Linked DNA regions of Homo sapiens. The protein of the gene in region 1 purifies or fractionates together with the protein of each later gene. This does not show direct contact. Each region holds a gene or a part of one and is shown on either strand. Other genes may lie near its edges.

The links.
Region 2: the proteins of MIX23 (region 1) and CHCHD4 purify together in Homo sapiens (co-immunoprecipitation; 2 studies listed by IntAct). This does not show direct contact.

The regions. Positions count from the first base shown.
Region 1 is NC_000003.12:122,380,174-122,387,429, reverse strand, and holds the start of MIX23 (protein MIX23), read left to right. Parts: upstream 1-4,198; 5' UTR 4,199-4,205; coding exon 4,206-4,256; exon of another isoform or gene 4,257-4,273; coding exon of another isoform or gene 4,274-4,282; exon of another isoform or gene 4,283-4,608; intron 4,609-7,256. Other genes in the region: protein FAM162A, read right to left, coding at 3,131-3,164.
Region 2 is NC_000003.12:14,111,426-14,115,020, reverse strand, and holds the end of CHCHD4 (mitochondrial intermembrane space import and assembly protein 40), read left to right. Parts: intron 1-1,826; coding exon 1,827-2,134; 3' UTR 2,135-2,944; downstream 2,945-3,595.

The DNA.
Region 1 (7,256 bases):
TAAGATACCTCTCTACTCTAATGCTCTGAGATGTGGGTTAAACTAAAAGGAAGGCAGCCCATAGTCCATTACATTGGTAACAATGACGGTAACAAATTCATTTTCAAATCTGACCAGTCAACAGAGTTTAGGGGAGCAAAACTTTCTTTCAATAAGAAACATTCTTGTAAGGTCATTCCATTCCTTTGAACTAATAATCATTCTGTGGAAAGATACAATATCCTAAAAGTTATATCTATTTTATTCTTTCAGGAGAAAACAGGTGTGAAAACTCACCTTACATTTGCAGCATGTTCCAAGATATTTCCTAGCATCCTTCATCCAAAAAATATGTATTGCCTGTCTACTATGAACTGAACACCAATAAGTGGTAAGGACTGAGTAAAAACAAAACAGAGCCAGTGTTTACCCTTATGAAACCCAGCGTAGTGTGGGTAAATGGCCATTTAGTTCCTAATCATCTGTATCAGTGCTTTTTAACTTAAAGAGCATGAACTGCTCTGAGTAGCAGATATAAAATATGGACCCTCTCTCTCAAAAATGGTATACAATCATAAAAATTTGAGAAGTTCACAGGACCTCTCAAATGTGGAGGTGTCCAGTACCACAAGTTAACAACCCTGATCTGTATCTACAACTACATCTACAAAACAACAAATTCGAGCTCATAAAAGCCTACATTATGTTTGCTATATTGTTTGCTAAGGGAGTATACCAAAGATTTCCAACAGAAACAAAAGTAAAGGTCCATCATTTATAAGGTTAAGTTTTGATCATCTGAAATTTCACTTACCTAGAGAATCTTATTCCAAATATTCTGGATAAGTAAGGTATGCCTAGATTATGCTTCTTTTCTTTTTTTTTTTTTTTTTTAGACAGGGTCTCACTCTGTTGTCCAGATTGGAATGTGGTAGCATGATCGTATTATAGCTCAATGCAGCCTCAAACTTCTGGGCTCAAGTGATCCTCTTGCCTCAGCCTCCTGAGTAGCTGAGACTATGGGTTTGAGCCACCATGCCCAGCTAATTTTTAAAAGTTTTTTTTGTAGAGACAGGGTCTTGCTAAGTTAGCCAGGCTGGTCTCAAACTCCTGGTCTCAAGCAATCCTCCAGTATCAGCCTCCCAAAGTGCTGGGATAGCAGGTGTGAGCCACCACATTGAGCCTACATTTCTATTTGATCTTTCATTCCTTTGGCTAAGGCTGCTTATTAAAGCAGTCTTCTTTCTTGAAAAGCCATTTGCACATGAAGGTGTACTTTCATTTCAGAACTAAATCTGCATTTCATGACTCTTCCATTTCAGATTAATGAGATCCAATTAGTCATGACAAATTCACACACGCACAGCCCCTGAATGAACAGCTTGAACAACAGCAAAAAGCACAAAAATTCCAGAATTAAAGGGTACCCTCTCCTGGCTCTAACATTTTTTGGCAAAGAGATCCTGGACAAGTCATCTCTGACCTATGTTTCTTCATTTATAAAGTGTGGGAGGAATAAGACTTACCTGAGAGGGCTGCTATGAGAAATCCATCCAACAAAATAATGTATATGAAAGTATTTAGCTATGAAGTGGGTGAAAGGTAGTAGGTTGTTGCGGAGTTGCTCACAAAGCATCAGACATTCGTGGAAGATCATATGGAGAGAGCTGCTCATATAACATCCTTAGTGTGCTATTAAAAATTTTATATCTGAAGTAAAATAAATTGTTCTTAAATCACTCAAGGAATTCTGCTTTGGTTAAGTGGTCAATAGTGAAGTTTTTACACATCAGAAGTTTGCAGAGATGCAAAAATATATTTATGCAAGATGCATAAATATATTCTCAAAGCAAGAAGATGAACTACTTACAATATACTCAGTATTAGTTCAAAGATGTCAAAGTAGTTCCAAGATGTCAAAGTTCTTTTCATGCAGTCCATTTTAACTTTTTTACAGAGCAATGATCCTTTCACTTGCCTTGTTGAAAAGCTTCATAATGTTAATAGGATGTACAGAAGATATTTTAGGTGAATTAGTTCAACAAAACTGACAAAATCAATGAAATCATAGTATTGAGGATTTTAGTGGAAGAAGTGTTTGCTTTTAAAGGAAGTAAATATAATAATACTCTCTAGTTTGAGACATGTTTTCCAGTCCATTCTCTACCGGAACACTAGATAAGCTGTGTAAAGGATAATCTTGAGGTGGGGAAGGTTATGTATCAAACTTGTGAAACTATGCAACATTCACTCTTTTTTTTTGCATTACTTCATTTACATTACAATATATATTTATATTATTTGAATAGCCAAGTTTGGGGCTATTTTTCCTTTAAAAATTTAATTAACAACTTTTTAATAATGTAGTGTGTGCCATTGAACAAAAGATCTCTGGTACCCAGAAAAGAGTCAAAATGCAAGCCCTCTGATTTCTCAACCCCTACTATGCCAAGGCTCTGCTGGTTCTCCCAAAAAAAAAGAATTAAGCTTTCATTACCTAAGTCCAAAATAGTCATCACACAAATGTCTACCACCAAAACAAACTGCAGATCCTTCAATTACACACTTCCTCCAAGAAATTCGAATCAATTAATTGTATAAGTGTTTAAAAGTAATGTATCCTCCATTTTAAGAAAACAATTATTATTAATCTCTAAGACCTAAATCCTTGGCCTAATCAGACATTTAATGAGTGGGGAAACTTCAGACTGGAGGTTTTCTGGGATAAACTCCAGAGAGGAAGGAGCAGGGGGAAGAGGGAAGACTCAAGGAGAGCAATAGATAGGGGAGGTTAGGGTGGAAAGCTGAATGCATGGGTAAAGGGGAGGTCTAGGGATAGTAGGTGCTTTACAGACTGAGCTCAGGGGAGGCTGAGGACGGGGGTGGGGAGAAGGGTAGGCGCGTGGGCAGTTAAGTTGGTGGGAGCTGGGTGGATGGAGATGAGGGTAATTCACGGGCAGTCTCCAATGCCTATCAGCAGCTGCTCACCTAGTTCCCTCCCACATGGCTACTAAGTAGGTAGGATTCTGAGGAACCGAGAAAGTGCGTCATGGAATGGAGCCACTCCGGGGCCCAGGAAGGCTTCAGGATTCCCCCACCCGCAGCGGCCGGGCCAGCTCCCCTACCTCCCATATCCCGACCGGCGTCTCACCTGCTGCCAGGCGCAGACCGCTGAGGCTCCCCATGGCCACTTGCTACTCCGCCGACCAGCGCAGAACTTCGCCGGGGACGGTGGCGCTGGTGAGCTCAATGTCACCCAGCGTTGGAGTGGGAAGGACGCAGGCGGCGCCGGGGGGCGGGGCGTGCGCGACGCGGTGTACAGGCCTGCGCCAGTGCGGGGCGTGTAGGACGTGCGCCACGCGCTGGAGACCCGCGGCGCCAGCCTAGTGCCCCTGGCGCCGCATCCTGAGCCAGCCTCGGAGATGGTCCTGTGGAGTGTGGCGCCGTGGGCCCTTGCCCTAGCGGATATGTACCCATGGGAGTACCTGTGTGAAATAGAAAGGAAATGTGCAACTTTCGTGATCTGTAAACTCCCGAAATACACCAGATAAACCAGTATTCCAGTATGCCGCTCTTCCAGTGTTTTCAATGAACATATGCTTTTATCAGAAAACACATAATTGGACTCTGCTCAGTGGCCCTATCTCTTGTTGGAGCATCCCTCAGGCTAATCTGAGAAATTAACATGTATGTTTTCAATTTGTTTTCTATTTACCTATTTTCTAAAAACATTTGATCATCTCCATCCTAAACACTTTACTCATACCCACCCACACTGCCAGAAATGCCGTTTTTTCTTGACGTTTCTTAGTGGTCCCAAATTCTTAACAAAGACCCCCCTGCTCCAGGGTCCGGGGAGGAGGTTAGGCACTGGAGTGAGAGGTATTAGAAAGGCCTCACTTGCCTAGATTTCCTTCAACGACCTGGTAGGGGAACCACAAGGAAATTGTTTCCCTTTTGTGAAAAGATGGGATTGGAGTAAACAGTCCCTTCAAGGTCTGACAATCTTTGATCCATGTATCTGGCCCAGTTCCAGGAGGACATGTTAAAAGGGTTGGGACAGCAGGGTGACAGGTTCCGAGGTGGATGCGGACCACGTTGAACTCAAGCCTTGCACTCAGCTTTCCTAAGGATTCCCCTCGTACTATATTTTTTGTCAGGCGACTCCGCGGTCACCTTTGCTCCGCGGTGATTGGCCTGCAGCGGGGTCCTCGTGTTTGTCCAATATGGCGGCGCCCAGTGGCGGTGTGAACTGTGAGGAGTTCGCCGAGTTCCAGGTGATGGGGTTTTCCTCATGTGGCAGGCATGTGCCTCCTTTTGTCCCCAGACCCTATTCCCTGCTTTGCGAGGGAGTATGAACCAGCTTTGGAAAAAGCGGGCAATTCAAAGCTCTTTTCTCGAGCCATTGGAGGTCATGGGGGGCGCGGGTTTGGCCTTAGGGAGCGAGGCTGCTCTGTAGGAGGAGGGAGGAGGGGGGTCATAGTTCTCTCCGCGGCTCTCCGGCCTTGTCTGGGAAGCTCTGGGTAATCTGCTGTGGTAAAGCTCGGGATGCGTGGATAAGGATTGTAACAATCTTGTAGCAGTTCCCTGAACTCAGTTTCCAGCTTCTGCCATTCCTCTCCTACTTTTGTAAGTAGAGTTTTTGTGGGAGAGAAGAAGGTGCAGAAGAGCTATTTAGTTGATAAAACATACTTGGTGCAATTTACTATTTTTGTGGGACAGGACGTATGGAAGCTTGGAGGGAGGATTAATTATAGTACCTGCTCTAGTGTCATTGCCCATTAGAGAAGATGTAATATTTAGAGGTTTTGCCTTTTTATGTTCAAATATCAGAGACCTAGGGCTAATTATTAACACCTGAATGCAAGAATAGGGATCTGGTTTTGACCAAGTTGCCATTAAAGTTATCTGTTCCAATTCAGTCATAAATGTGCTTCTGTTTAGTTACAAAGTTGAATTCCAAAATCATGATCTTAAATATGTATTGCATTATTAACTAACCCAAGATACTGAAAAATTGACCTATCTGTAGTAAGCTTTGTACTTTGAACGGTTTGAAGGTAGTGGTATTCTTGAATACTGCCTCAGCCTCCCTGTAGCTAGGACTACAGGCACGTGTCACCACGCCCGGGTAATTTTTTAAAAGAAATTTTGTAGCGAGAGTGTCTCACCAAATAATCCTCTTGCCTCGTCCTCCCAAAGTGTTGGGATTACAGGCGTGAGTCACCACGCCCGGCCTAAAGTGTTTAAAATTTTTGCAACTCTTATTTTTTCATTATAAAAATTAGATTTAGTACTTCTGTAAAATATCCTATTTCCAAATTGAAATAAAATCCAGAAAAGAGTGTTTAAAATCGAGTGCCTAGAATCCCATTTTAGCATGCATTCAAGAATTTATTAGATACTGTATTAGTCCGCTAGGGCTGCCATAACAAAATACCACAGACTAGGTGGCTTAAACAATAGAGATTTATTTTTTCACAGTTCTGGAGACTAGAAGTCCAAGATTAAGCTGCCATCAGTTTCTAGGCTATACAGTTTGATTTAAGGGGGGAAAAAGAGTGCCATCAGAATTAGTTATAGTAAGGCTTCTCTTCCTGGCTTGTAAATGGCTGCTTTCTCACCATGTCTTCTCTATGTCACTATCTCTTCTCTGTGCCTGCACCTGGAAGGAGAAGGATCTCTGCTATCTCTTCCTCCTCTTCTTTTTTTTTTTTTTTTTATTTTTTTTTTGAGACAGAGTCTCGCTCTATCCCCCAGGCTGGAGTGCAGTGGCACAATCTTGGCTCACTCCAACCTCCACCTCCCGAGTTCAAGCGATTCTCCTCCTGAGTAGCTGGGATTATAGGCGCCTACCACCGTGCCCGGTTAATTTTTGTATTTTTAGTAGAGATGGGGTTTCACCATGTTGACCAGGCTGGTTCCAAACTCCAGACCTCAGGTGATCCGCACCCCTTTCAGCCTTCCGAAATGCTGGGATTACAGGCGTGAGCCATGGCGCCCAGCCTATCTCTTCCTCTTCTTATAGGGACATCAGTTCTATCGGATTAGGGCCCACCCTTATGACCTCTGTTTAACCTTTATTACATACCTCAAGGCCCTATCTCCAGATACAGTCATGTTGGGGATTAGGGATTCATGAATTTTGGGGACACACAATTCAACCCGTAACAGATACCTACTAGTCTCCTGGCACTTGCGAAACCCAGTGGATGGAGTATAAAACAAGGAACGTAATCTAAGTAGGGCTATAAAATGTAGAAAATATTGGGAAGAAAAAAGAATAAAATGCTGAAAGAATTTAGAGAGTTGGGCCTTAGGCAGGCAGGGACTAGGGGTATTCTAGGCAGAGGCAATAGGATAATAGACAAAAAAGTTTTATGTATTTAAAGGAAATAGAAAATCAGTATTGCTAGAACACATTATTCATACAGGGGCACATTGGGATTACACAAGATTGCAACCAGATTTGTGGAAAGCCTTGTGTGTCACGTGTGAGTTAGGGAGTCCTTTTTGGGCAGAGGGGTGAGATGATCGAAGAGGTGCTTTAGGAAGATTCATCACTACTGCCAGTGGCTTTGTTTAGGCCCGTATCATTTTTGAAACTAGCTTTGCAACAGGCCTTCCTATCTTCTGGCACTTTTTTTCTCTACTATATTCCCCCTTCAATCTAATCTCCATAATACTGTGGCATATGCTATTATATTCTGAATTTTATAATCTAAGCTATGCTTTTGAGTTTTGGGTTCATATGACTAGATATAAACTTCTTAACATGGCATATAAGACCTTTTAAAATCCAATCCCAAAGTGCCTCTTGTCATGTCTCTTATTATTGTCCTCATACGTGTCTCTTTCATCATACCCACCCCCCAGCACTTCAACATGCATGTTTAAATATTAGTATTTCTATTAGGAATATTCATTGACACATAAGTGATTTTTGAATCACATTGTAATTAGGTACTAAATAGGTTATTTTCTAGCATCAATGATGGTTTCTTTTATGCTTACAGGGCTGCTTTCTATTCCTGTCCTGGGGATGCTGGGTGTTAGAGGACTCTGGCAGTTGTAGACAAGTTTGTGTTTCTGGTTTGGGGGAAGCACCGTGGGAGCTTTGATGTAAAAATAGAGTTTGAGGAACCAGATCTGTCTGAAAAGAGCATCATGTAAAAGGGACTTTGATGTCAAGTACCAATGACATTACTTCTGGGTACCATCAGGCAAAGGGAGAGGAGAGGAAAGGTTAAGGGAGTTCCATATCATTCTTTGGAGTA
Region 2 (3,595 bases), about 110 Mb from region 1:
AAGAGTACCAAGAAAAAAGGTGGCAGAATTAATTTTCCTAGAATCAAAACATCAAGAGGGCCTTAAAGATCATCTGATCCAATGAGAAAACTGGGGGCCTGGGCGGGGGCGGAGACTGACTCAGCCAGAGACTGGAACTTCAGGCCTTAGACTGCATGTTTGACAACACACTGCATCTGAGCTTTATGTAACATGCCAAAGGTACCCTCTGTGTGGATTTATATTGTGTCCCTGAAATGCAAATTGGCACCATGTGCTTTGTGAGGAGGTATCTCATTCCAGCTTACCTGCCCCTAAGAAACAATGAAACAAGGACTCCTGGAGACCTAGGTTATACATTTTTTGTTATGATTTTTTTTAATCAACCACCTGGTCAATTTGTACTGGGTTGTAATTTTTAAATGTCAGTATTACCTCTTTTGGAAACTGGTTGTGCAGGTTTGTGAGCAGATTTGAAGCTCCAGGGGGCAGCATTTGCAAATGTTTCTCCAGCACTGAGGTCCATTTCAAGAAGTGGTGAGATGTAGGGGAAGGGGCATGGACTCTGGGAATCCTGTCAGCCCAGTCTGCAGTCCTCACTTGGACCATGAACCCCAGAGACTGCATGAGTAAACTGGGGTTAGTAGCACCCACTGCAGAAGGTTGTCAGAAGGCTTATGTGAGTTACCAAACGTAGCTTAATGCAGGAGAACTTGATCTGCAACTGCTGATGGTCCTGGGGGTCTGCGCCTGCTAAGGGGGCAGCACTAGTTGGCATCGTCCTTGCTGTCCCCATTTTACAAGTAAGGAACAGGAATAGCTACAGCAGATCCATTGATCAGTGGAGCTTCCCAAGCTGGAATTGAAGGCAGGCGGGGTTTCGCCTAGGACTTTGGACGTTAGTGCAGAGTGCCAGGCTTGGGTACTGCCCTGGAGTGAAGAATCATGTGTAATTTCACAGGACCTTTTAGAGGCTCTCTTAGAAAGTACTTTCAGTCTCTTAATAAGAATCATGTAAGAAACTTCTGTATGAATCATGTCTTCACAAAGCTGAAAATGAAGCCATCGTTTTGAGAGCATTTTGGAAAACCAAGAAATACTATTTAGATGTGAATAAAGTTCAATGATAAGAAAAGGTATAAAAGTCAAAAGTAAGAAGCCTATTAATATAGTGAAAATGAAAACCCATCTATAACCTTGCTTCCTGCCCAACACATATGTGCAGTTTAACAGGTTTGGTTGATTTTTACAAGAATGCACTCGCACTAATGGTATGCCACCAGCTTCTCATTGTGCAGCATGTCTTGGACATCTTTCTTCGTCAGTACATAAGGAGCAACCTCCTCCTTTTCACCAGTCCCCAGGCTATGCTGAGCTTCTGAGAGCAGCTGCAGGGCAAGAGGGGCTCAGGGGGGCAGGGAGCATGGGGGTGGGGTGGTCCTGATCATCCATATGGGGAGGGGGATTGGAAAGAGGAGATCAATACCTCAGTTCCTTAAAGTGTTTGGGCTTTCAAAAAGCTCCTCACTAACCATCCAAGTGATCTCCTCTTCTTTGGGCTAAATGGGTCCCGGTATTTAATTCTTGGAGCACAGCCTCAGAGCACTGAGAGGTGGCTTAGAATAAATTAGTGTCACACGTGGAGAAATATGTCATTGGTGGCTTCTCTCCCAGGTGGGCCAAGGAATGCTGGATATGTGCTAGGCTTTAAACCTAATCCAAATCGAGGTGTGGGTCCATAGGCAACAATAGTTCCTGTTCTGCACCCCCTCAGTAGCCTGTGAGGACTGGACTAGTTTTGTATTTTCTGAAACTTTAGAGAACATCTCTCTATCTTCCTGTTCTAGGATTGATACTGCCAAATGGAAACATTAACTGGAACTGCCCATGCCTTGGGGGAATGGCCAGCGGTCCCTGTGGAGAACAGTTTAAGTCAGCCTTTTCCTGCTTCCACTATAGCACGGAGGAGATCAAGGGGTCAGACTGTGTAGACCAGTTCCGGGCCATGCAGGAATGCATGCAGAAATACCCAGACCTCTATCCCCAAGAGGATGAGGATGAGGAAGAGGAAAGAGAGAAGAAGCCAGCAGAACAAGCAGAAGAAACAGCTCCCATTGAGGCCACTGCAACCAAAGAAGAGGAGGGATCAAGTTAATGAAGGCCACAAGGCACTGGGCACCAGTCCTTTTGGAGTGGACCTTTTGCAAAAGGCCTTGTCATCACCTTCCAAGAAAGTTTCCTTCTGTTGTCCTGTGCATTATAATATACAAAATAACTTATTTTGATGATCAGAGGTCTTGAGGTCTTGACATCTTGACATATACACTGAAAAAAATGGGGGTTGTATGTATGTGTGTCCTACCCAAACCTGTGGCCGCCACTTTTGAATTCTCAGATTGCCCTGAATTTTGCCACTTTTAAATAATGTGCTGAATAAGCTCAGCAACTAAAAACCATTACCCAAGAACGTTTCTTGTGAGTGAGCTGATTTATTCTGATTCATTATATTCCTTTTGGTAGATTTTATACCCCTTGGGGAAATAATACAACAAAAACATCTCTTAAAAATGCTGGGATGGGGCCATATCTACTAGCAGAGGCCAGATGGTCAGATATGATTTCTGCAAACCCATCTTGACCTTGAGTATGTGAAGGGGTACTGTACTTTATTCCTGATACATTTTGGTTTCCATGTAGGTGTTGAGCTCCTGGTTTTCTGTGTTTGGATGATGAAGATTTGGACCCTTCCATTCATAATCCCTTTCTAAGTGAAGGGAGAGGCTGGCTTGGCTGTTCCTTGTTATTCCGAAAGCCCTGGTTTGGGGCCCATGTTCACACTGGCTCTCAGTCTAGTCAGGTGCAATGTTCTTGAGAGGTGGGGACCTAATTATTACCAGAGTAGCAGCAAGAGAGGAAACGTTGTGAATTAAGTATTCAATTAAAAGGAAACATGATTTCTACCTGATTTTGAATGTGTCCTTTGTTTTCACTAGTTAAAAATGTTTTCTATATAAAAAAGTATAAATTATGAACAATTCAATTGAAATTCCTCTTGAAAGATATTGGTAAACCAATTTGAGTCCGTTAAAATTTTCTGTGTTGAGTTCAAAGGAAGCTTACTTATTTTATATGTGAGCAGATGCCTTCACACAGACATTACAGTTAGTCTATGAGGTGGGGAAGGCTCTTCCTGTTTGAAAATAGATTAACTTGCCTAAGGTAACTGCTAGACAGTTTTCAGGCTGTGGCATAGTAATGCCTCATTTGTCTCAAATGTGTTAAGTTATTTATGTAAAAAATTGCCTTAAAACTTAATAGCTTGAAACGAGGAATCTGGGCATGGCTTACCTGGGTTCTCTGGCTCAGTGTCTCATGAGGCTATGATACTTGTAGTCATCTCAAGGTGGGACAGGCCTTTCAAGATCGCTCGAAGTGGTTTCTGGGAGGGTTCAGTGGGTTGAATCTTGTGGGCTGTGGATTGAGGGCCTCAGTGCCTTACTGGCTGTTGGCCAGACACCTCCTTCAGTTCCTTGCCACATGGCCTTTGCCTTAAAGGGTCAGCTCACAACATGGGAGGTGGCTTCCATCAGAGCAAGCGAGAGAGCAAGATGGATGC